4 linked regions of the Homo sapiens genome follow. The protein of the gene in region 1 interacts with the protein of each later gene in a pairwise test. Each region holds a gene or a part of one and is shown in the gene's direction. Other genes may lie near its edges.

What was found.
Region 2: the proteins of STAT5B (region 1) and CHAF1A interact in binary tests that used the Homo sapiens proteins (3 or more experiments, as listed by UniProt).
Region 3: the proteins of STAT5B (region 1) and NMI interact in binary tests that used the Homo sapiens proteins (3 or more experiments, as listed by UniProt).
Region 4: the proteins of STAT5B (region 1) and LMO4 interact in binary tests that used the Homo sapiens proteins (3 or more experiments, as listed by UniProt).

The regions. Positions count from the first base shown.
Region 1 is NC_000017.11:42,217,372-42,224,408, reverse strand, and holds part of STAT5B (signal transducer and activator of transcription 5B), read left to right. Parts: intron 1-852; coding exon 853-1,027; intron 1,028-4,566; coding exon 4,567-4,697; intron 4,698-4,945; coding exon 4,946-5,097; intron 5,098-5,530; coding exon 5,531-5,686; intron 5,687-6,078; coding exon 6,079-6,258; intron 6,259-6,944; coding exon 6,945-7,032; intron 7,033-7,037. UniProt on the Homo sapiens protein: Carries out a dual function: signal transduction and activation of transcription. Mediates cellular responses to the cytokine KITLG/SCF and other growth factors. Binds to the GAS element and activates PRL-induced transcription.
Region 2 is NC_000019.10:4,440,603-4,443,897, forward strand, and holds the end of CHAF1A (chromatin assembly factor 1 subunit A), read left to right. Parts: intron 1-1,642; coding exon 1,643-1,739; intron 1,740-2,322; coding exon 2,323-2,423; 3' UTR 2,424-2,795; downstream 2,796-3,295. UniProt on the Homo sapiens protein: Acts as a component of the histone chaperone complex chromatin assembly factor 1 (CAF-1), which assembles histone octamers onto DNA during replication and repair.
Region 3 is NC_000002.12:151,279,644-151,286,680, reverse strand, and holds part of NMI (N-myc-interactor), read left to right. Parts: intron 1-2,390; exon of another isoform or gene 2,391-3,382; coding exon of another isoform or gene 3,383-3,649; intron 3,650-3,726; coding exon of another isoform or gene 3,727-3,732; coding exon 3,733-3,813; intron 3,814-4,637; coding exon 4,638-4,733; intron 4,734-7,037. UniProt on the Homo sapiens protein: Acts as a signaling pathway regulator involved in innate immune system response.
Region 4 is NC_000001.11:87,331,861-87,338,897, forward strand, and holds part of LMO4 (LIM domain transcription factor LMO4), read left to right. Parts: intron 1-152; 5' UTR 153-155; coding exon 156-391; intron 392-7,037. UniProt on the Homo sapiens protein: Transcription cofactor. Plays a role in establishing motor neuron identity, in concert with MNX1, acting, at least in part, to disrupt LDB1-LHX3 complexes thereby negatively modulating interneuron genes in motor neurons.

The DNA.
Region 1 (7,037 bases):
ATGATCGCACCCCTGCACTCATGGGTGATGGAGTGAGACCCTGTCTCAAAAAAAAAAAAATGAAATAGAAGATGTGGTCTCTGATCTTAACTGATTTATAACCTTGATGAGATTGCAACCACAAGACAATGTGAACAAGTGCAAAGTAATTCAACCTCAGCTGAATAATTTTTTAGTAAAGGCATGCTCATATTCAGGTGAGAATACTTAGGAAAGACTTTTCCCTAGCCCCTGAATCAGGTGTGGAAGGAGTGGTCTGATCAGGTCACTTACAGGGCTGGGTCCACAGAGACCTTGTTTATGCCTCCCCCATCACTTCACCCTGGGGTCTCCAGGATGCCTGCAAGAGGTTTGGCCTCTTCCATGGTGGAAGCAAATGATTCCATCACGAGAATATCTTGAGTGAGGACACAGATGATGTGTGTTCACATGGCCCTGCTCCCCATGGCCTCCCTAATGCTTAATGCCGTCCTTGCATTGGGTCAGTGAGTGGAAGAGGAATCACTCCACCTCCTCATTAGTAGGAAAACCCAGGTGACACTGGACCAGGTTACGTTCTAGTTTCTCCAAAGGTAATTCAATGGACCTCGTTTGGAATACTCTGGTGGAGGTCAGATCTGAAATGGAAGCTTCTCCCATGCTTTGTGATCTGAGCCATGATCTGTCCGCTCACCTGTTTCTCACTTTTCCCACTCCACCCTGTGTCTCATGATGACGTTTGCTTTTCCTCCCGACTCAAAATTTACCTTTTGGGGTCTTACCCTGGTTGTAGGAGCTGGCTTTTCCTGGGGATTAAGGCCTCAGTCTTCCTCCCATTCGCACTGCCTTGCACTGCCCCCCATATGTTCCCAGGGTAGCTCTCCAGCTGGAAGCCTTGCTGATGCCATGTCCCAGAAACACCTCCAGATCAACCAGACGTTTGAGGAGCTGCGACTGGTCACGCAGGACACAGAGAATGAGTTAAAAAAGCTGCAGCAGACTCAGGAGTACTTCATCATCCAGTACCAGGAGAGCCTGAGGATCCAAGGTGAGGCGCGGTGGAGGCACATTGTGCAACTTGAGGATTGGGCCTGGGGACTGGAAAGCAGCTCTGGTGGGGTTGGGAGAAAGCACACTTTCCATTCGGAGGCAGCGACCTTTCTCTGAGTAGCAGGGACTTATTTGCATTGAAGACAGTGCTGAGAGGATGAGATTTAGGAAGGGGAGATGACAGGACCCCCCGCTTAAGTGCATATCTCACTCAGGTCCCCACATCCAGGGAGCTTCTGAGCTGCCAGGGAAGACATTTCTTCTTTTGAGAAGGAGCTCACAGTCTAAATAAATACTAGCAAACAATACTTTTGTATATAGTAGGCATATTATAAGTGGAGCTTTATTGAAATGATAAATAGGAAATTATATAATTACATGTTTAAAAATTTTTCTGGCTGGGCACGGTGGCTCACACCTGTAATCCCAGCACTTTGGGAGGCTGAGGCAGGCGGATCACCTGAGGTCAGGAGTTCGAGACCAGCCTGGCCAACATGGTGAAACCCCGTCTCTACTAAAAATACAAAATTAGCTGGGCATCCCAGTGGCGCATGCATGTAATCCCAGCTACTTGGGAGGCTGAGGCAAGAGAATCTCTTGAACCCGGGAGGCGGAGGTTGCAGGGAGCCGAGATCTCACCATTGCACTCCAGCCTGGACAAAAAGAGCAAAATTCTGTCTCAAAAAAAAAAAAAAAAAATTCTAAGCTGGGAGTGGTTTTGCACACCTGTAATCCTGGTGCTTTGGGAGGCCAGGGCAGGAGGATCACTTGAGGCCAGTAGTTTCAGACTAGCTTAGGCAACATAGTAAGACCCTATCTCTAAGGGGGAAAAGAAACCTTTCTAAGCAGGTACGTGTAAGTACTAAGGACCTGTATATGATTTCTAATGTTCTATGCAGTTATTCACAGAGGTCTTCCTGAAACAGAGTACACTTAACGCCCCTTAGGTAGCCCTTATGGACAGAGCTTCCCTAGCCTGGTATAAATCCTGCTTAGTAGTTGGGGCACAGAGAGCTTCAGTCTGTGGTGAGGCTGTGGAGCCCCACCAGCGCCCCCTTTTGACCCTGTAGCAGTTTGGCAGTTTGAGCTTTAATAGTTTCCTCTCTGCTTCCATGCCCAGCTCAGTCTCAGAGAAGCCTTGGCTCAACCACCCAGCCCCTCCAAACACACACACACACAGCACACACAGACAACACAGCACACACACACACCACACACATCACACACACAGCACACACACACACAGCACACACACCCCCCACAGCACACAGAGACACACAGTGCACACACACAGCACACACACACCACACACAGCACACACACAGACACACAGCACACACACACCACACCACACACACCACACCACACACAGCACACACACACCACACCACACACAGCACACACACACCACACATAGCACACACACACACCACACATACACACCACACACACATAGACACACAGCACACACACACACACACAGCACATGCTCCTCTAATTCCATGTATGTAGGTTCCATTTTATGTCTATAGTGATACTACTTATTTACTCTTTATCTTCTCCACTGGAATATAAATCTTTGAGAAGGGACTATATCTTTTATCTCTGTACCCTGAGGCCAGCACAATGCCTGAAACATAACAGTTATTGAGTAAAGGTTGACAGGATGATTCTAGCCTGTCTTCCTTTTTTATCTGAATCCATCCTAGACTGGCCCTAGAAGAAGGGCAGCTCCTTCAGAGAATGGAAACGGAAGATTTGGGATGGCTATTCCTACCCAAGTCCTTAGACTGTCAACAGTATTTCTGATCCCGTGCCTGGCTTTTCTGTTTCCTGTGCATGGTGGCGGATTAGGTTTGGATTCAGGTTGGGTTTGGATCTATCACGCAGTGTCTTCTCAGTCCCATTTGTCAAGTTCACTCAGCAGAAACACAGACTATTGATCTGCTTTTGCCAGGGAAGGCTCAGCTGCCTCCAGTGGAGTAGGGAAATTGCTTCCCGTCTCCCTGGCCTCCTTCCCAAAAGCTTCTGCAAATTTCCAGGAGAGCCCTAAGTGGGTCCCTTGCATAGGAAGGCTGGGCCCAGGTGTTGGGATCACCACCACCCTCCCTGTGGCTGGGCAGGATTCCTGAGGTAGCCGTGCAGATACCTTGGATCTGTCCGTCCCTGGATGATCCTCTTCCTGCTCGATACCTGCAGTGAGATTGGAGCCATATTTCTGAGTTCTAGCTCTGGGCTGTTCCTGGCTACATAGAGTTGCTTTTGTCTGTCCCAGCTTGTGCATCCCATGGGTCAGGGCTGGGGTCAGAGTGACGTGGCCCTCAGGGGCCAGCCAGGAGCTCGACCAAGACATGCTGGTGCGCGCATCTTCTGACTCAGCTCAAGCAAGGACTCTGGGCTGTTGAGAAGGTGATGGGAAGGGATTAATAGTCCCAGTGTGGTGGAGACGGGCTGTCGCTGGGAGGGTGGGGTGGGCCTGCGGTGGTGGTTGTAACTGTGGACATGTTTACTTTCTTAGCCTGGGTTATTGATACACAGGTGCTCCTGTGTTCCACGTTCCCTGTGTCTTACCTATTTCATAATAATTTTTAAAAGGTAATGAGGCCTAACTTACTCCCTGTCCCGCCATCAATGAGACTCCTCACAGATGGTGTGGAGGGAAGCCGCCTCCCTTCGGCCTCCCTTTCCTGAGAGAATCTTGGTGGCTCTGCATCCCCAGTGGCCCTGGACATGCTCTCCCTCTGCGGTCTGTCTGTCTGTCCGTGTTCCCTGGTTGGTTGGCTGGGTTCACAGTGAGCTCACCTGGACAAACATGCTGGGCCCCTTCCAGCCTCTCAAGAATCTCATCCTCCCCTGAGGAGGGATTGCTGTGCTCAGGGACTAGACAGAGCCGCCGGGGCTGGGTTTCCCTGAAGAGGCCTTGCTGCGGGAGGGATGGGGCCGAGCAGCTGCTTGTCTCTGTCACCTCTTCTCTCTGTCCTGTTCCCCGTTAACCAAGAAGCACGAACCTCACACAGAGCTCACCCATGTCAGGCAGCTTTCTGGCATCTTCCATGTCCTCATGTATTTAATCTTAATGCACCCCACTGAGGCAGGTGCCGAGAATCTCCCGTTTTACACGTGGGGAAGCCAAGGCACAGGAAAGGAAAGCGATTTGCCCAGGTTCACCTGCAGTCAAGGGCATGGGCACACTTACACCCCAGACAGCCTGGACCCATGCTGGGCCGCGAGAAGAGGGCTGGCAGCCCTGTGAGGCAGGCGGGCAGGAGGCAGGCAGGCCTCCTCCCCAGCTGCCCCAGCACCCGTGTGCCCCCAGAGGGGACGGCTCAGAGTCAGGAGGCTGGCGAGCAGGGCCCAGAGGCGCCTCCTGGGGCACCCATTCATCTTGGCCCCCCTGGCTGTCAGGAACCCCGACTTGCCCTTAATGCAGTATCTGAGCCCAGGAGGGTCTCGCTCCAGAACGGGTGAGTGGGCTTCTCTGGGCCTCCTGTTGGACACTGGGAGGTGATGGTCATGGTTTCCTCTCCCCTCCTCTAGCTCAGTTTGGCCCGCTGGCCCAGCTGAGCCCCCAGGAGCGTCTGAGCCGGGAGACGGCCCTCCAGCAGAAGCAGGTGTCTCTGGAGGCCTGGTTGCAGCGTGAGGCACAGACACTGCAGCAGTACCGCGTGGTGAGTGGGGTCCTGGGCCTCTCCTGGGCGTGGGTGCCATGAAGTCAGTCTCTGGGGACCCGAGGGAGGGCTGGGACCAGCATGAGAGCAGAACCTGGGAGGGCAGGAGGCCTTTTTTCCTGGGGGCCTTGCGAGGCAGAGCAGCTTGGGGAGAGGGAACGGCCTGGGCCCTGCCCTGCCATTTCCCAGCGAGGCCCTGCGGTGTTCTCTGGGAGCCCAGAAGGGGCTGCTCTCCTCCCTTCCCTCAGGAGCTGGCCGAGAAGCACCAGAAGACCCTGCAGCTGCTGCGGAAGCAGCAGACCATCATCCTGGATGACGAGCTGATCCAGTGGAAGCGGCGGCAGCAGCTGGCCGGGAACGGCGGGCCCCCCGAGGGCAGCCTGGACGTGCTACAGTCCTGGTAATGGTGTGGGGCGGCCAGCGGGCAGGGCAGGAGGGGCTGGTGGGGATCCCGGCTGCTTCTGCGTCCTGTGCTGGCTCCTGCAGCAGGCCCCCTCCATCCTGGGACAGCTCTTGTTTCTCCAGGGAGCCTGGTTCCTCAATCAGACTTTGGCCCCCATCCTGTGCACCTCCCCCAGGAAGGGGGCTGCTGTCCTGGAGATGGGACAGGGTTCGGGTGTGTGGGGTGATGCTTGGGCTGTTTGGGCCTAGTCAGGGTCGCCCCTCCTGTGTACGTCTCTAATTCTGGGAGGCAGGGAGCTCTGCTCTTCCCATGGGTGGGAAGTGTGGCGAAAGCACAGAGCCTTCCTGGGGGAACGGGAGCTGTGTCTTGGGGCCTGGCGTCTGTGCGGAGGAGCCATTGTCCTCCTGTTGGCCTTGGGGCTCTCGTGCAGGTGTGAGAAGTTGGCCGAGATCATCTGGCAGAACCGGCAGCAGATCCGCAGGGCTGAGCACCTCTGCCAGCAGCTGCCCATCCCCGGCCCAGTGGAGGAGATGCTGGCCGAGGTCAACGCCACCATCACGGACATTATCTCAGCCCTGGTGACCAGGTGACTGCTGCCTGTTTGCCATGCCCAGGAGCTTGGGGCAGCTCCTGCCTGCGTGGGGGGAGCCGCAGGTGCCTTCCAGACCAGCAGATCCACTTCCTGCCTCTCATCCCTCCCAACTCCATCTCCAGTTGCTGTGGCCCTTGCCCAGTTTCTCCTGTGGACACTGCAAGAGATGCCCTTGGGCTGCAGCCCATGCCAGCTTCTGTGTTATCTCACTCCCCTCTCCATCCTCTCCCTGGACTCTCACGGCTTCCCCAGGAACAGAGGCTGTGCCCGAGCTCTTCACCTCCTGAGCCCCTCGGGAGGCAGCCCCACCCCCACCACAGAGGGACTGAGAGCCCTTTCCCCTGCACCAGCCCCTCATCATGCATCTGTCCCTGTGTCCCCTGCAGCACGTTCATCATTGAGAAGCAGCCTCCTCAGGTCCTGAAGACCCAGACCAAGTTTGCAGCCACTGTGCGCCTGCTGGTGGGCGGGAAGCTGAACGTGCACATGAACCCCCCCCAGGTGAAGGCCACCATCATCAGTGAGCAGCAGGCCAAGTCTCTGCTCAAGAACGAGAACACCCGCAAGTAATTGTGCAGCTTCCTCTCATTCCCTGCTACTTGTCTCATGTCCTGGCAACAGGAAAAAAAGAATTCTGCCTCCTGTGTCAGATCCCTGTTTGCCCTTCTGGCCTCTTCTGGGCATCAGCAAAGGAATATAAGGAAGTTCTTGGGCCTGGTGTGGTGGCTCACACCTGTAATCCAAGCACTTTAAGAGGCCGAGGTGGGCAGATCACCTGAGGTCAGGAGTTCAAGACCAGCCTGGCCAACATGGTGAAACCCTGTCTCTACTAAAAATACAAAAAATTAGCCGGGCGTGGTGGCAGGCACCTGTAATCCCAGCCACTAGAGAGCCTGAGGCAGGAGAATCCCTTGAACCTGGGAGGCAGAGATTGCAGTGAGCTGAGATTGCAGTGAGCTGAGATCACGCCACTGCACTCCAGCCTGGGCAACAAGAGCAAAACTCCGTCACAAAAAAAAAAAAAAAAGTTCTCTTAGGAACTGTTTTCTGTGAAGATAGTTTGATCTTGTTTCATTTTGTAGAGATACGTCCGAGAAGATTACATGTATGTGTTATGTAGCTAACATTTCCTCTAAATGACGTACATTTTTAGCAAACTTCTCTATTTCCTGCTACCCCAAATTATATTATTTACTCCGCATGTCCTGAGACCCTGGCATGGGTTTGGAGCTGGTCTCTCTCTGATTTGCAGTGATTACAGTGGCGAGATCTTGAACAACTGCTGCGTCATGGAGTACCACCAAGCCACAGGCACCCTTAGTGCCCACTTCAGGAATATGGTGAG
Region 2 (3,295 bases), on another chromosome or scaffold:
ACTTCACATCAGGGACGTGTTCTGAGAGGTGTCCTCAGGCAATTTCATGGTTGGGTGGGGCTAGGTTGCTCTTACACATCCTAGATGGACAGCCTGCCACACGCCTGGGCCGTGTGGTACATAGCCCAGGGCTCCTGAGCTGTGGACCTGTGCAGCAGGTGACTGACTGCTCCATCCTGCAGGCACTTGTAACCCAGTGGTATATGTGTCTTTAACATAGAAAAGGCACAGCAGAGGCCAGGTGCGGTGGCTCATGCCTGTAATCCCAGCACTTTGGGAGGCTGACGTGGGCGAATCCTGAGGTCAGGAGTTCGAGACCAGCCTGGCCAACATGGCGAAACCCCCGTCTGTACTAAAAATACAAAAGATTAGCTGGGCGTAGTGGCGGGCACCTGTTAAAAAAAAAAAAAAAGGCACAGCAAAAATATCGTTGCGGCTGGGGCAGTGGCTCACGCCTGTAATCCCAGCACTTTGGGAGGCCAAGGCAGGCGGATCACTTCAGGTCAAGAGTTCGAGACCAGCCTGGCAACATGGTGAAACCCCATCTCTACTAAAAATACAAAAATTAGCCGGGTGTGGTGGCAGGTGGCTGTAATCCCAGCTACTCAGGAGGCCGAGGCAGGAGAATCACTTGAACCTGGGAGTCAGAAGTTGCAGTGAGCCAAGATCGCACCACTGCACTCCAGCCTGGATATATGGCAAGACTCTGTCTCAAGATTTATATATATTAAATAAAAATACAGTTGTCTGTAATCCCAGGACTTTGGGAGGCTGAGGTGGGTAGATCATAAGGTCAGGAGTTTGAGACCAGCTTGACCAACATGGTGAAACCCCGTCTCTACTAAAAATACAAAAATTAGCTGGGCGTGATGGCATACACCTGTAATCCCAGCTACTCAGGAGGCTGAAGAACGAGAATCGCTTGAACCCGGGTGGCGGAGGTTGCAGTGAGCTGAGATTGTGCCACTGCACTCCAGCCTCAGTGACAGAGTGAAACTCCCGTCTCAAAAATAAAAAATAAAGGCCAGGCATGGTGGCTCACACCTGTAATCCCAGCACTTTGGGAGGCTGAGGCGGGCGGATCACGAGGTCAGGAGATCAAGACCATCCGGATAACACGATGAAACCCCGTCTCTACTAAAAATACAAACTGGGCGTGGTGTCAGGCGCCTGTAGTCCCAGCTACTCAGGAGGCTGAGGCAGGAGAATGGCGTGAATCCGGGAGGCGGAGCTTGCAGTGAGTCGAGATCGCGCCACTGCACTCCAGCCTGGGCAACAGAGCGAGACTCCGTCTCAAAAAAAAATAAAAATAAATAAATACAGTTGTAATCTGATGGGGCCACTATCAGGTATGCGGCCTGTCACTGACTGGAAATTATTCTGCAGTTGGCAATGATGGCTGTTTTTGGAGATCTGAATCCAGTTCATTTGAGGGAACCCCCAAGGTTCTCTGGTTGTGGCCTCTTGAATAAACCTCTCACATTTGGACAGTTTGTTACCAAATTGGGTTCTGGATGTTGGTTTCCTTCCGTGTTGGGGGTGGGAGGAAGGTGTCACACCTGTGGAGTTCCCCCCGCTACCGCACTGGCACCAGGGTGGCTGCTGCCTGCAGTGCTGATGGCCGTGTACCCTGTCTGTCCAGATTGGTGCTGAAGACATGGACGGCTTCCAGGCAGACACGGAGGAGGAGGAAGAGGAGGAGGGCGACTGTATGATCGTGGATGTCCCGGATGCTGCGGGTGAGAAGGGCTGTAGATAGCAGAACGCACTGGTGAGGTGGGCGCTGGAGGTAAACCTCAACAGAGAAGGGATGGGGCTGCCTAAGACTAGCTCCACTGTGAGCAGCCAGGAGGGCTTGCAGCTGGAAGTGGCTCCTGCCCTGCCACATCCTCGGGCGGGCTGGGCCGTGGGTGCTGACCATGCCAGGCATCGTTCTGGCCGCAGAGCCACAAGGGCCTATGCTGGGAGTCTCAGGTGGTTGTGACGTTAGATGGGGGTCAGGGAAGGCTGCACTGAGGCAGCAAGGGAGGGCCAGGTGGATTTCTGGAGCACTCGCCAAAGAGGAAGTACAGAGGCCCTGCAGCAGGCTGCGTGGGAGGAGTGTGCCCGGGTGGTGGGGGGCAGGCAGGGTCAACCTGAGAGCAGGTGAGCAGGTCACCTCTAGAAGAGGCACAACGCCCCAGCCTCTGCCTGTCCCCACTGTCAGGTGGAGGGTCCCGCCCTGGGGTTGTTGCAGGCCCCATGAGGCAGCAGGGTGGGGTCTTCCCCCAGGGAGCCCAGAGGGCCCAGCCAGCTCAAGACCCTCCCTCTCTTGCCCTGCAGAGGTCCAAGCCCCGTGTGGAGCCGCTTCCGGAGCTGGGGGTGGTGTGGGGGTGGACACCGGCAAGGCCACCCTGACCGCGAGCCCACTGGGTGCATCCTGAGAGCAGGGGTGACGTATGTAGAATGCTTAGGGTGTCCTCCCCACAGAGCAGATACTTGAACCGACTCAATTCCTGTGTAAAGAGCACTTTGTCCTGCTTCACGGACCTCCCCAAAGTGTGCAGAGTTCTATATAGGATGCTGGATTAGTTCCTTTGATATTTGTAAAAATTCCCCCAAGAGCCGCATATGAATCTGCCCTTTAATAAAGCATTATTGAGATTGCTGGCCTATTGGGGAAGCCTGCGGGCACAGGAGCAGGCGTGGAATCCAATACTTGTAAATGAATTGAAGCGTCAGGACCACCCGCCTGGCCACGTGCGCGGGCCCCTGGACCTAACGAGGCAGTGTATAAACTTATTCTCTAGCCCTGAGCTGCTCTGTCTGTCTTTTCCGAAAACATTGTGTTTCTCTGAGAGTGCACCTTGCCCATGGCCCGGCCCCATGTGGTGCCTGGTGTCTGGGGCCAGCCTTGTGCCCTGCAACAGCACCGTCCCATCTGTTTGTCACTAAGTCACCCTCATACCAGGCTGACCTGGGTCAAGGTGCGGGTTTTTCCGCACGTGCTTCTGTCCGGCGATCCCTCCTGCCCTGGGTTGGGGGGTTAGGAGAGGGTGTTCCCAGAGACCTGCTAGGGTCACCTCCCTGAACCCGGAGCTGCTGGGAGCCGAGTTTGGCTTCGAGTCTGAGGCTTTGTGAGAGCCCACCCCAGGTCAGGTGCATCTTTTGCGAGTGCTGGAGCTAGAAGGTGACCTCCTCCCCGCCCCAGGTTGAGTGGGCTTTATCCACACTGTCCGAGGGAGGACAGGCGACAGCCGCTGTGGTACTGAGCAGCTCAGAGCACACGCAGCCACGGGGAGGGTCACGCTCGCCA
Region 3 (7,037 bases), on another chromosome or scaffold:
TTCAGTCTTCTTTCTGTGATATGAATTCAGAATTAAAAACTCAGGGAAGGGACTAGAGGTAATTGTTCTGTTTTCTGGCAGGTCCCACATTTAGGCAGATAGGAGAACATCAGTGCACCTTCATCCTGTGCTTTGGGAGAGACAGAGGAGGAGGAGGGGGAGGTCAGAGAGACCTTGAGCCATCTTCAGTTCACCATGTCAAAATGCCATACTTCCGGGTATCAGTTTCTGAGCCCCAGTGATAGCAAAAGGATCCAGTTGAGGATCATGCTTTCTACTTAGTTGTGAGGTCTCTTTAGTCTCCTTCAGTATGGACATTTCTTAGTCTTTCCTTGGCCTTCTGAACTTGAAACTTTTGAAGAGAACAGGGCAGTTGTATTGTAGAACCCCTCAATTTGAGTTTGTCTGATGTTTCCTCATGCTTAGATTCAGATTATGCATCTTTGGCAGGACTGTCGTCGAAGTTACATTGTGTTCTCAGTGCACCTTGTAATATGTTACATTATTTTGATTTATTCCATTATTTACTTTGATTATCTCATTATGTTGATGTCTGCCAGACTTCTCCAGTATAAAGTTACTCTTTTCTTCTTTGAAATTAATAAACATTTTGTGGGGAACTATTTTGAAGCTAACTAAAAATTCCTTTCTTCATCAAAATTTCTAATTTATCTGGACTCAGTTTTTTACTTTAATCAACAGATTTAATCATTACTACCATTATGTATTTTAATCTTTAATTTATCCCCAGATTTGGCCACCGAAAACCATCTCAAGGTGGATTCTGTGTCGTTTCAACATGTCATCATCATTCTTTAAGCATTTCCTTGCTTTTTGGCATCATAAGATGTCCCAGGCTCATCTTGCAGTTTTTCTATCCTGGTTTTGGGATCAACCATTTCTCTAAAGAGTCCTGGTTCCTTTTGGTGGAGAATAGTATTAGAAACCAAAGTCTGGGTGCTGAGTGTGCTCATTGCTCATTGTGGTTGTATCTGCTCTCCCAGGCCTTCTCAGCAGACAGAGCTAGGGTATATATGTATTTGTATATACACAAGATACACACATAGGCATTGCTTTTTTTTTTTTTTTTTCTGAGATGGAGTCTCACTCTGTCGCTCAGGCTGGAGTGCTGTGACGCAGTCTTGACTCACTGCAACCTCTGCCTCCCGGCTTCAAGCGATTCTCCTGCCTCAGCCTCCCGAGTAGCTAGGATTACAGGTGCATGCCACCATGCCTGGGTAATCACACATAGGTATTTCTATCTGTCTGTCTATTTATCTATCTATCTATCTATCTATCTATCTATCTATCTATCTATCTATCTCAATCATCAATCAGAAACCACAGCTGCAGGATTACATTGAAATCTAGTTCCAATCAACAGTATTTATTCTTGTTTTCTCCATTTCCATATTTATAATTATCTTCTCTGACGGTGAAAAACTTGGCTCCTATTATCCTCCATATATTTACTTACTTGATCAATTCTGTGTATGTACTTTTGGCCACTGGAGCCCTTTCAGTTGGGTCCCCATGTCCCTTTCACATACTCCCATCATATTGTATGTGTTTGTGCATGTGTTTTAGTGCTTTTTACTTTTCTGGCACTACAAGATATTCCAGGCTTATTTTGTATATTTTATACCCCAGACCTAGAATCAGCCATTGCTCCAATGAGCCCTGGTTTCTTTTATTGAAGAATATTATTAGAAACCAAGATCTGGGTGTTATGCGACTCTCCTCTTTTTTTGACACTCCTGTGTTCATTAAACTAAGACATAGCTAAGTTTTTGCTAGTCTTCTATTTTATTTTTAAGGAGGAATAGATGTCTTTTATTTCTTTTTCAAGAATATTGAGAATTTAGCCACTTGAAATCTTGGAAAATTATATGGCAGACTGTTTATTAATGTGTATCTAAAAACATAGAATCATGATATCCTTTGTCCCATTTTTGATCTGAGAGTTTTTCATCTCAGTAAATTCATATGTAGGCAAGAGTTCTTAAATTTTGTGTACCATGGATTCCTTTGCCAGCTTGGCAAATCCTATGGGCCTTTCTCCAAAAAAAAAACATTTAGTCAATGCCTGTGGGGACAGGCATGGTGGCTTATCCCAGCACTTTGGGAGTCCAAGGGGGGCGGATTGTTTGAGCCCAGGAGTTCGAGACAGTCTAGGCAACTTGGCGAAAACACATCTCTACAAAAAATACAAAAATTAGCTGGGCATGGTGGCACATACCTGTAGTCCCAACTACTTGGGGGGCTGAGGTGGGAGGATCACTTGAGTCAGGGATGTTGAGGCTGCAGTGAGCCGTGTTCATGCCCCACTGCACTCCAGCCTGGGCAACAAAGTGAGACCCTATCTAAAAAAAAAATTAAATGCATAAAATAAAATACATAGAATTACAAAGTAAATCAATTGTATTGAAATATGACTGGGATTATAGGCACCTGGCACCACGCCCAGCTAATTTTTTTTGTATTTTTAGTAGAGACGGGGTTTCACCATGTTGGCCAGGCTGGTCTCAAACTCTTAACCTTGTGATCCACCCGCCTTGGCCTCCCAAAGTGCTGGGATTACAGACATGAGCCACCGCGCCCGGCCAGAAATCAATTGTATTGAAATATGGTTATCAGAATATTTAAAAAGCAAATGTTTGATATAGTGATATATATCAATGTATTACAATATATTACAAGACCTAGTGGTGAGGTTAGTAACTAATGTAGAAGCAATGTTAAACACAAACTATTTTAGCATATCTGCAACAATATTCTATGAAACTATCTGTGCTTTCTATTGGTGACTATCACAGGTGCTGTGAATACTACTGTAGTTTGTTACCATATTCATAATTGAAGAGAATGCTAAGCTTCAATTAGAGGTTATTAGAAATAAACATATAATTTCTTCCCAATCCATGTTTATGGACCCAGCAGGAGAGTTAGTGAAAGCTTCAGGTAAGAACACCTGCGTAGAGAAAGCATATGTTGGAGGCCTCTTGACTTTGTTTACATTTGGGGAGAACAATAGGGAGAATTAAATATTTTAATCAAAAACTTTGAAAAACGTTGGAAAACCAAAATAGTATTCATTTAAAATGGAGCATGATATTATGGTTGGAATGTGAACTACAAAGGAACATTAATGTTCATTACTTTCTATATATTATTTTGTTGAAAAGCAAAGGATTTTTAGAATCTTTTTATATATTATAGGTGTGAAAGTTATTTGAAATATTGGCCAGGTGCTGTGGCTCACGCCTGTAATCCCAGCACTTTGGGAGGCCGAGGGGGGTGCATCACTTGACAAGAGTTCAAGACCAGCCTGACCGACATGGTGAAACCCCATCTCTACTAAAAATACAAAAATTAGCCGGGCATGGTGGCAGGTACCTGTAATCCCAACTACTTGGGAGGCTTGAGACAGGGGAATCACTTGAACCTGGGAGGCAGAGGTTGCAGTGAGCCAAGATCGCACCATTGCCCTCCAGCCTGGGCGACAGAGAGAGACTCTGTCTCAAAAAAAGAAAAAAAAAAGGAGTTATTAAAATACAGACTTTGTTTGGATATAAGCCATATGATAATAAAGCCTTTGATGATGGGAAAAAAAGATATAGCAAAGAAGAGATGTTTCTTCCATAAAAGGGTAAAAGTTCTTATTTCTTTGTTCTTAAATTTGTGTATATATGCTATGCTTATAATATTTATTTTTTATAATATTAGGGGATCATGGAAGCTGATAAAGATGACACACAACAAATTCTTAAGGAGCATTCGCCAGATGAATTTATAAAAGATGAACAAAATAAGGTAAAAAGGAAATTACTGGGTATTATTAAAAATTATTTTATATCTATTAGTTTTGCAGTAAGGCATGTTTTGTATGTCTTTGTCCAACATTACCTTGAATTTGGGAGGCCGTTAGGCTTTAAAAAAATTTTTAACTTCCATTATGTTATTTAAGCCTTACAAGAAGTGTCATATTTTTATTCTTTCTCTTATAAGGCTTACAACACTAGCTGCTTTCTCACTCACACCCTCATTTCTTGGATTTGCATCAACAAGTTAAGAGCATAGTCAGCAATTATCTCATTAGACCCCAAGAGGGAACGGAGGCCCAGGTAGCTTAAACCACTTCCCCAAGGTCATATGTCTGGCTCATTAAGGTAACTGTGTACTATGCGATACTATGGGAATCACAGATAATTAAGAACAAAAACAACAACAACACCAACAACAAACTGCCCCAGAATATGTCCGCTATTACAGTGCAATTTAAAAGTCTTATCATGCTCACAAATAGCTAGGAAAGGAGTTGATGCAGCACTGAAGTAATATTCAGAAGATCTGATCTCAATCTTTGCCTTACTATACAACTTTCTGTGACTTCGGTCTAGTGTAAAAGGTGGTTTCCTGATTTATATAATGGAGATAGTACTACTTGGCAATGTTAGAATAGACAGGTGATGATGTAAAATATTCAACAAATGCATTATTCACATAGTCATATTTATTCTGAGACTGTCTAATGTCTTTCTTTGGTCAGGATGAGAGAAATTTATAGTCTTTAGTTCATTCGGAAAAATGAGTTCAGGGGCTATTTACTTTCTTTGGTACCATTTGATATTTTTAAGGGACTAATTGATGAAATTACAAAGAAAAATATTCAACTAAAGAAGGAGATCCAAAAGCTTGAAACGGAGTTACAAGAGGCTACCAAAGAATTCCAGGTACTCTCTTAATTATTTTATATACTACATTTTTGATGGATGCATGGTTTTTGGAAAAAGCATTTTAATTACACAAAATTCATTTTTAAAACCTTATCATCATCCATGGCACCACCATTTGTAATAGTTCAAAATGGAAAACAACCCAATGATTCCTTCATAGTAGAACGAATTAGTGAATTGGGGTATAGTCATATGATAGAAAACTACACAGCAATGAGAATGAACAGATCATAATGACATGCAGCAACACAAATGAGTTTCATAAACACAATGTTAACACAAAAAAGACAGAAGAGGGCATACCATATGCTTCCCTTTAAATTAAGCAAAAGCAGGATGTTTGAAGTTAAAACAGTGGTTATTTTGGAAGCAGGTAAGACCCAGAAGGGAACCCAAGGGGGTTTCTGGGGTGTTGTCATGTCCTGCCTATCATCTGCGTGCCAATCACGTGTGTTAGCTTTGTAAAATTTCATCTTGCTGTACTTAATGATACATGCATTTTTCTATTATTTACGTACACTTTAATAAATTTACAAAAACAAAAAATTAATAAAATTTACCAAAAAAAGATGGTCATTAGCAAATTACTGTTGGATCAAATTCTGGCTTTTCTCACTGAGTTCTTTTATAATTCTTCTCATCCAAGGTGCTTTGGTAATTTAGATGAGTTTCACGGTTCAAAAAATTGGACATATATTAATCCTCACCATTTAAATTCTCTCCTAAATTTTCCTGTATTTTAATTGTACATAATTTTCACCCATTTTTTTTCTTAACAACTCAGATGTTAAAAAATTAAAGCATTGAGGCTGGGCGCGGTGGCTCATGCCTGTAATCCCAGCACTTTGGGAGGCTGAGGCGGGTGGATCATGGGGTCAGGAATTCACGACCAGCCTGGCTAAGATGGTGAAACCCTGTCTCTACTAAAAAAGAAAAATTAGCCAGGCATGGTGGCGGGTGCCTGTATCCCAGCTACTTGGGAGGCTGAGGCAGAGAATTGCTTGAACCTGGGAGGCGGAGGTCGCGATGAGCTGAGATCACACCACTGTGCTCCAGCCTGGGCGACAGAGCGAGGCGCCGCCTAAAAAAAAAAAAATTAAAGCATTGACACTTCTTGTTTCTGAAGTGGGAGATAGGATATTGAATATCAGGAAGTGAGGTTTTCTGTGTTTATGAGATGGGTGACTTTGTGCAGAAGACTCTGTTAAGATTCTGGTTACTTCTCAGACTGGAGCTAGAATCATGCAGTCTTATAACTCAAAGAGCCTTTAGAAACCGGCCAGCCCTAGTCGACCCACTTTGCAGAGGACCAAACCTGTGATCAGAGAGCTTAAGTAAATTTGCTGTCTGTCGCAGTGTGGTCAGAAATAGAATCAAGCTTTCTCACTCTAATTTCAGAAAGCCCTTGCTCCTCAGCATATACTGGGTATTTCTGCATTATTGGGTAACACTCTGCCTTTACTCAGACATTGTAGACTGTTTTGATGTCAGCCTTACCGTAATCAGAAGTTCCACTGGAGTTATGCATAAAGGCAAAGAATAAATGTAAGATTAAATTGAATGACTCACTGAATATTTCTAATCTCTGTGTTATTTTCAGCATGTAAAATAACCATGGGCAATAGAAATGCAAGCATCTATCTCATTTGTGCATTTATGTGTAGTTATATGAATCTGTTAATCCCAATAATTCTAAGCAGCTAAGTATAACCACCTACCTTTATCTTTCAGGTTACAATTTTTTTTTTTGAAACAGAGTTTTGTTCTTGTTGCCCAGGCTGGAATGCAATGGTGCGATCTCGGTTCACTACAACATCCGCCTCCCTGGTTCAAGCGATTCTCCTGCCTCAGCCTCCTGAATAGCCAGGATTACAGGCGTTTGCCACCACGCCCAGCTAATTTTTGTATTTTTAGTAGAGATGGGTTTTACCATGTTGGCCAGGCTGGTCTCAAACTCCTGACCTCAGGTGATCTGCCTGCTTTGGCCTCCCAAAGTGCTGGGATTACGAGTGTGAGCCACCTGTGTAGCCTCAGCTTACAATTTCTGTTGATACTGTCCCTTCTCATTTTTTATAAACCTAAGTTGTGGTAATGGTTAAAAAGTTGATGGGCAGGTGTTGGGGAAGGTGGAATTTTTAAATTTGATAAATTTAACATCATCTAATTCTGGGCCAGGTGTGGTGGCTCACGCCTGTAATCCCAGCGCTTTGGGAGACCAAGGCAGGCAGATCATGAGGTCAAGAGACCATCCTGGCCAACGTGGTGAAACCCTGTCTTTGCTAAAAATACAAAATACAGAAA
Region 4 (7,037 bases), on another chromosome or scaffold:
CCTCAGCCTCCTTCCCGCCCTTGCCCTGCTGTTTCCTTCCAGCAGCTCCGCGGGGAGGAGGGGAATGGGCTTGCTCTCTCTCCGGCGATTACTAACTTTTGCATCGCCCCTGTTTTGTCTTTCTCTCCCTGTCCCCTTCCCGCCCTCTGCAGACCATGGTGAATCCGGGCAGCAGCTCGCAGCCGCCCCCGGTGACGGCCGGCTCCCTCTCCTGGAAGCGGTGCGCAGGCTGCGGGGGCAAGATTGCGGACCGCTTTCTGCTCTATGCCATGGACAGCTATTGGCACAGCCGGTGCCTCAAGTGCTCCTGCTGCCAGGCGCAGCTGGGCGACATCGGCACGTCCTGTTACACCAAAAGTGGCATGATCCTTTGCAGAAATGACTACATTAGGTAAGACTTTGCTGTCTTTCCTGGAGATGGGGGGAAGAGCAATGGCAAGGCCAAAGGTTAACAGGGTTGTGAGGAAAGGAGTAGGCGTCTACGGGGAGTATGCAGCCTTCACCTCAAAAATCTTCTAGTTGGCGGAATTTAAGGGGTTCAGGAAGCATGTGTTAGTCTTCCAATATCTGATGGCAAATTCATGGCAAATGCCATACTAAGTAAAGACCATCTGGTGGGACTGGGTCATTAGATGTGCAAAGGTTGAGCACCCTCTGGTCCTAGAGTTTAAGTAAGTGGTCAGCCTCTACTGGACTTCAGGCTAAAAGCAAACATCCCAAGCGGGAGTTAAGCTGCGTTCTTAAAACAAGGTAGGAACTCACAGAGGAACCCAGAAACAAAGGTTGACTTAAAAATACAAGTGTAGTTAGTGAGAAATGATTTGTCTATGGCGATGGCTTATTAACGATATTTACATAAGCATCTTGAAACTTTTTTGAGCGGAAGGCTGTGATTCGTTCTTTGTGCTCCTTGAGAAAAATGCTAATTATCCATCAGTTTAAAGACTTGTAATTCTTCTTATAGAGAAAAAAAAAGTCCCAAGAAATAAAACCTGGTGGTAATGTTTCTCTTCATACTGTTACTCGGAGGCTTGCAATAATTCAGTTAGTGTGTGGTTTGCGATGTAGAATTTGCAGTTTTTTTCAATTGAAGCATGTTCAGGTTTTGGGTTTTTTGTTGTCGTTTGTATCACTGCCCTTGATCCCCAAAAGAGATTTAGAAAAAGGCTATAGAATTATACTAATCTTGCATTTTAAAGCAATGTATAGGAACATTCATATGTCCATGTAAGCAGTCTTTTCCAACAAGTTGCAGTGCAATTAATGGAAAGAATTCAGGAGGTCAGGTGCCTATAGGATCTTTTCAGGTGAACTCAAGCTACTTAAACTCATTAATTTGAAAGGAGGCATTTGAAGGATTACACATTTAATTTGAGTAAATGGTTTGATAGACTGATGCACATGAATGCTTCTAGGAGGTGTTCTGTTTCAACATCCAGTAATTAAAAAAAAAACCCACACGCACACAGTTGATACTAGAAAACCGCACACTTTTAAGAATTTCATCCTATGTAAATTTGTCCTAAACCTTTTTCTTTAAAGTGATTAGTAGAAAATTTTTTTCTTTCTTCAGTGTGGGTAAATCAGTGGATGAACTATTTTGTTCAAAGTTTAGCTCCATTGTGATTCGCCTTATCCTGCGACTAACATTGTAAAAGATCCCAGTGCAGTTCCGAGCTGAGTGTGGATATGTTTACCCCAGTGATATCATTAGTGTAAGATGATGGAGTAAAATGACATTTAGTTATTTTGATAATGCAACCTGTGTCGATTCTGCTGGCATCCTCAATCAGTCCAAGTAAAAGAAATACAGGAAGGGAGAGGGCTTTTATTTTTAAATTAAGATGGCAGCATTAATTTCACTAAGTGTTCTTTTAGAAGTAAATGTTGGAAAATCAGCAGGAACATGGGTGTAATGCTTTCTGGTCCTCCTTCCAAGTAATGCCATGAGCTTTGACGGTGCTGTAATTAAATAGAAAGCAAAACTGTGGTAAGAAAGGAGTGTGGTTTGAAGTGGAAAAATTGACAGTGCTGTTAAGATTCCGTGAATGGTACAGATTCATCTCTTCTCCGAGTGCCTTCAAAAAAAAAAAAACAAAAAACAAAAAAAACCCTCGCTTCTGATTACAACTAATTAAAAAGAAGATGGGTCCGCTTGTATTCCCCCAGGACAAGTTTAGGCAAGTGGCTTCCTGGGAATTGTGTCCATTCTTTTCTCTATTCTTGGGGCCAAATGTAAATGGCCTTTTGGTGTTTTCCTGTGCCCTAATGGAGCAATGGAGGATGTGTGCCCAGCCCTGAGCCTTAATTAATGGCATCTACGTTCTTACTTCCTTTTTTCCCTCTGAATCTGGAAACTGGAGCCAGGCTCGCTCTTGAACTACATGCTACCCCGAGGACCTTAGATCTTTCTAGGAGAGATGAGTTCTAGCTCAGTACGAAATTGATGGCCTCACACTTAGCTCAGGGCTCACCAGCAGCTGAGCGCCCCTTCCCCTCCAATTTAAGAGATTACTGAAGTCTTCCTTCAGTGTTCCTCTCTCAGCCCATCAGGATGTCCAAAGGGTGGGAAGGTGCAGACGTTGCTGTTCCTCTCAGCTACCCCCTCTCCAATGTCCCTCAAGTCCACTTGTTGGAGGAGCTTTCAATGCCGCAGGGACCGCTGCAGAAGAGTGGAGTAATCTGCTCGCCCGCCGCCAGGTGAAGGGGACCCCTTGGTCCGACTGAGACCACATAGCGATTTACTGAGGGGCTTTTAAACTGTCTTGACTTTGAGTTGTGGTTTTTTGAAAACAACCAAGGTCTTGCTAAAAAGCTGCGGGAGAGCTGGGAAAGGCCGGCCTGAGCGCGGGGGAGGGGGCTGCAAGATGAGGGGGCGCTTTCACCAGTCCCCTCCCCCTCCGCGGCCAAGTGTCGATGGGCAGAGCTGGGCTTCTGCCTCCTCTCCCTCCAAGATTTCAGATAAAGCGGCTGCCTTGCTGCAGCGAATCCGCACAATTAAAAGCTTTAATTAGTGGCTCCTCCATTTTCTTAGTTCTGATGGGCTTTATCTAATGAGATCTGGTCTCTGGCTTAGATCTGCTCCGAATGACGTGTCCGCAATGAATGAGAGCTGCGTCGCAAACAAAACATTTAATTAACAAAATTGGCCTCTAAGAGAGGGAGGGAAAGAATGAAGGGGGGGGGGTTGTAGAGCGGAGGGGGAGGGTGGATCTTAAAGGGACCAACGCCTGCCTGGCCCCCCCATCTTACAAAAATAGGGGAACCTTGGGACTGCCCCTTCCCCCACCCCCGGCTCCCGACCCCTCAGCTCCACCCAAGCGCCCCAAGTAGCTTCGGAAACTCCGTTTCTCTTCCTCGAACCGTCTTTCCTCCACCCCCACCTCGGGCCCGAAGACTGGCGCGGAAAGTGCAGCGAGAGGAGGAAGTTCGGAGACCGGCGGGTGGGGCTCCAGGTCCGGGGAGGGCGAGGAAACGCGCCGGAAGCCAGGGTGGCGGTCGTCGGCTGGCCCTCGCTCCCTAGGCGGCCAGCACCCGGGCCGGCGCCGCCCGAGGCCGCAGCCAGAGCGCCCAGCCGGCGGGCGGTCTCGGGCCCACGAGGGGGCGAGCGCAGGGCGGGAGCCGGGCGAGCGGGTCGCGCTTTCTTTCCCCGGGCTCCACTCGGGCGGTTCACGTGGCGCCCGCAGCCGCAGTGAGCCCGGCGCGGCCGGGGGTGGGGGCCTGGGGCGAGGGTGGGGAGAATTGGTAGTTGGTGGTGGAGGGTGTGTTTGGGTAGGGGGTGGCGTTAGGAATGGAGGCGCCGCCAGACAGCGAGTTCATTTCCCTGGTAATCAACAGCAAGCTGCTATATTCAGAGAATGCTGTCCCTTTAATTGAACAGGCTAGGTAATTAAATGGCACTTTTCCAATAGGACGTGCTAGGTAAATCTAATAGTTGGTTATTTAATATCACTTTGAAGTCTGCCCACTCAAGCACAATGACAGCACAGGAGCATGTGAACTATTAGCTAGAAAAAAAAAAAAAACAGGATCTCAAAAATTAATTAAATCGCATGCAATTTAGGGGGAACGTTTATCTTGATTTGTCATAACAGAATTAATTCAAGGCCTCCAATTCACTTGGGGGCAGATCTGTTACTCTGAATTAACCAAGCGTAATTTGGCTGATTTTTTTTTTCCTATTATGCACAGCCCCCCTCTTAAGTATCAATAGCTTCTGGTGCTTTTAAGGTGCCTGGTCTCTAGTTTTTCCGAAGTACCTTTAATGGACTTGGCTCCAGGCATAATTTCTGGGTTGCATTTCTTTGTTACATTTAATATAGCTGGTGCAGAATTTAGATTAAATATAGGAACCTGCTGGAAAACCAATTGCTTCTGGATCAGTAGCTGTGGATGTGCTTTTTTCTCCTCAGATAGGTTGCTGATATTTACTTGCAGGTACAAATGTATATACCTTTCAGCCACACTCTCAGAAACGTACCTCTCCTTGCCCAAAAGCAGTTTAGAAAACACAGCCAGGTAGCGTTTCATATTGCATGTATTTTGCTTGAAGTAATAATGCAGTTGAAAATAAGCCCACCTATTGGTCATTGAAGTTACTGAAAGATGCTAAGCATTGATAGTAAACTAAAAATACGATTTGCCCTCCATCTCTTAATGCCAGCAAGGAGAGCTGGAGCTCAGCGGGCAAACAGGAATAAAACTACATGGTGTTGTTCAAACAGGAGCAAAGCACCTTTAAAGTGCAGTGGTTTGGTGGGATTTCTTCCCATCTTTTCCGTTTTCCCTGTATAAGGAACCTCTTGATGTTTGTGATTGATTGCATTGCCCAAATGCTGAAATATTAACGACCTTCTTGGACTGAGGACCCAAAGAAAGGAAACTGAAACCGATTCTGTCATCACAATTAAAGACTCCCCTGGCTTTAATTAGCCTGACCTGGGGTATATCTCCCCGTTGCTTGAGTTAAAGAGAAAAGAGCCCATTATAGTCCAGTCTGAGACCGATAGCTACTTAATTGAGCACCTAAAGCCTCGAGCCTTTTAAATCAAACACTGTCCGGACAGTCCCCCTGGTTAGATAATTAACTCTCCAGCGCACAGAAACGTTGTGAAAAAACACACACACACACGCACACACAACTTTTCAGAAAAAGGGTGGAATTCTAATGGTAGCCTTCCTCTCTGGTAAAAGGGGATTAGAATGTGTATAGACACGTAAGTTATTCTGCTCTGAGGCAGCCTTAAAGCTGTAGGCATGGAAAGATCTTAAACTCCATTGATACGTTGTTCAATAGCACATCAGTCCTGGGTAGATCTTGGTCATTTCAAACTTTGTAACTGTAATTTTTGGCACTTCAGGAATCCCACCATTTTGTGGCTGATTGTTCTCTGAAAGGTTATGATAGCAGCCCTGGAAAAAAATAAGATCTATGAAAGGCTTTTGGATTACATATGAACTGCCCTGATTATTAAAATACACTTCGATGTTGAAGACTTACAACTGACTTTACTCAGGGTGAATTGTTAAATAAATGAACACTTAGGCTGAGTAATCAGATGGGTACTGTGAAAAGGGTATTTTTGAGATGGAGTGTCACTGTGTACCTGTTGGTAGTGGCAACCATAATTATAGATTCTTATCCATTAAAATACTTCAGGGTTGCTGTAAGAGGATATTTGTTCTTTAGCCTTGTTAGGATTCTGTCACCCCCTTCTACCCCCATTACCTGTCTTCTCTTATCCTCAGCATGTATTTGGCCACATGGACTGGTTTTTAACTTTATTTTTACCCAAATTGTTTGAATTTGGTATCCCTTTTGGGGGTTGGAATAGCACTACTGCCGTCCATAAATGCTTTCCTCAGGGCCATGCCCATTCTCTGGCTACCTTCCCCTTCTGAGAACTCCCCTGCGGCAGTGGTACTGCAGGTGAGACACCGGGAGGTCCTCATCAGTGTTCCTGAAGTGTCCAGCATTAGGAGACAGCAGCCCAGAGGCCCCCCAAGCTCCCACATGGTGTGGTCCTGCAGCTAGAGGTCCTGACAGTGTATTATTTCAGCTTTCTTTCTGTAACTGTTCTGATTCTGCAAGAACGTGTCAATGTGTCGTGGATCTCAGACTAATTAGTTTTGAAATGGAGTTTTGATTGAACTCTTCAAATCGATGCTGCTGCAAAATTTGTTTCTCGGGCTTCCTATTAAAAGCCATCTTAAGGGGCAGTTTTACTACTCTCCCTGTCGTTCAGTCAATACATTTAATAACAACTTACAGGCTATTTTCAATAAAGTGGCGACAGCAAATTAGTAGTTTGAACATGACAAGCCTCTTCTGCAAGACCAGATTCTGAAAACTCAAAGCAATTATTTTTATATAGAGGCATGCTGCAATCATTCAGATTATGGGGTGTTCTATAGGAATATGTCTCCTGGTTTGACACAGACTGCATTTTATGACTTTATTTGGACAAGGAGGAAATGCAAATGTTAATATTTATTATGACACCAATATGTTAATTTGTAAGTCCTCTTACTTTGTTTTTCGTTTTTGAAAACTACCTCTCTGATTCTGCTTACTTGTTCCGACACCACCTTTCAATGTGAAATCATTTTGGTCTGTTTAATAAATATTTGTGGATATTAAAGAGGGAAGCCCAAAAGCAAATAAAGCTTCCCAGGTTGAGTCTACAGATTGCATAAAAGCCCAAGTTCGGTGGTTATTAAAATATTTTGTTGTGCTTGCAGAAGGATGTAAGGAATTATGTATATGTTTTTCTTCAGTACACCACAATTCCTTGAGCTTTCCCCTCCTCTGCAGCCTTTTCCTTCTCCCCCTCCTCCCCCCATGGCAGATGTTGTGGTCTCATTTGATTGCATAGGAAAACTGCAGTGATACAGCAAACACCCAGAGAGATATGATGACAAATGGGTCCAGATCCCGGTAAATTACTTTCTGCTCAAATCGAAATTTCATTCAGTTTGTTGCTAGCAGAGATGAAGTAATCTAAATTGTGGACTCAGGAGCAGATAGAGGGAAGTTG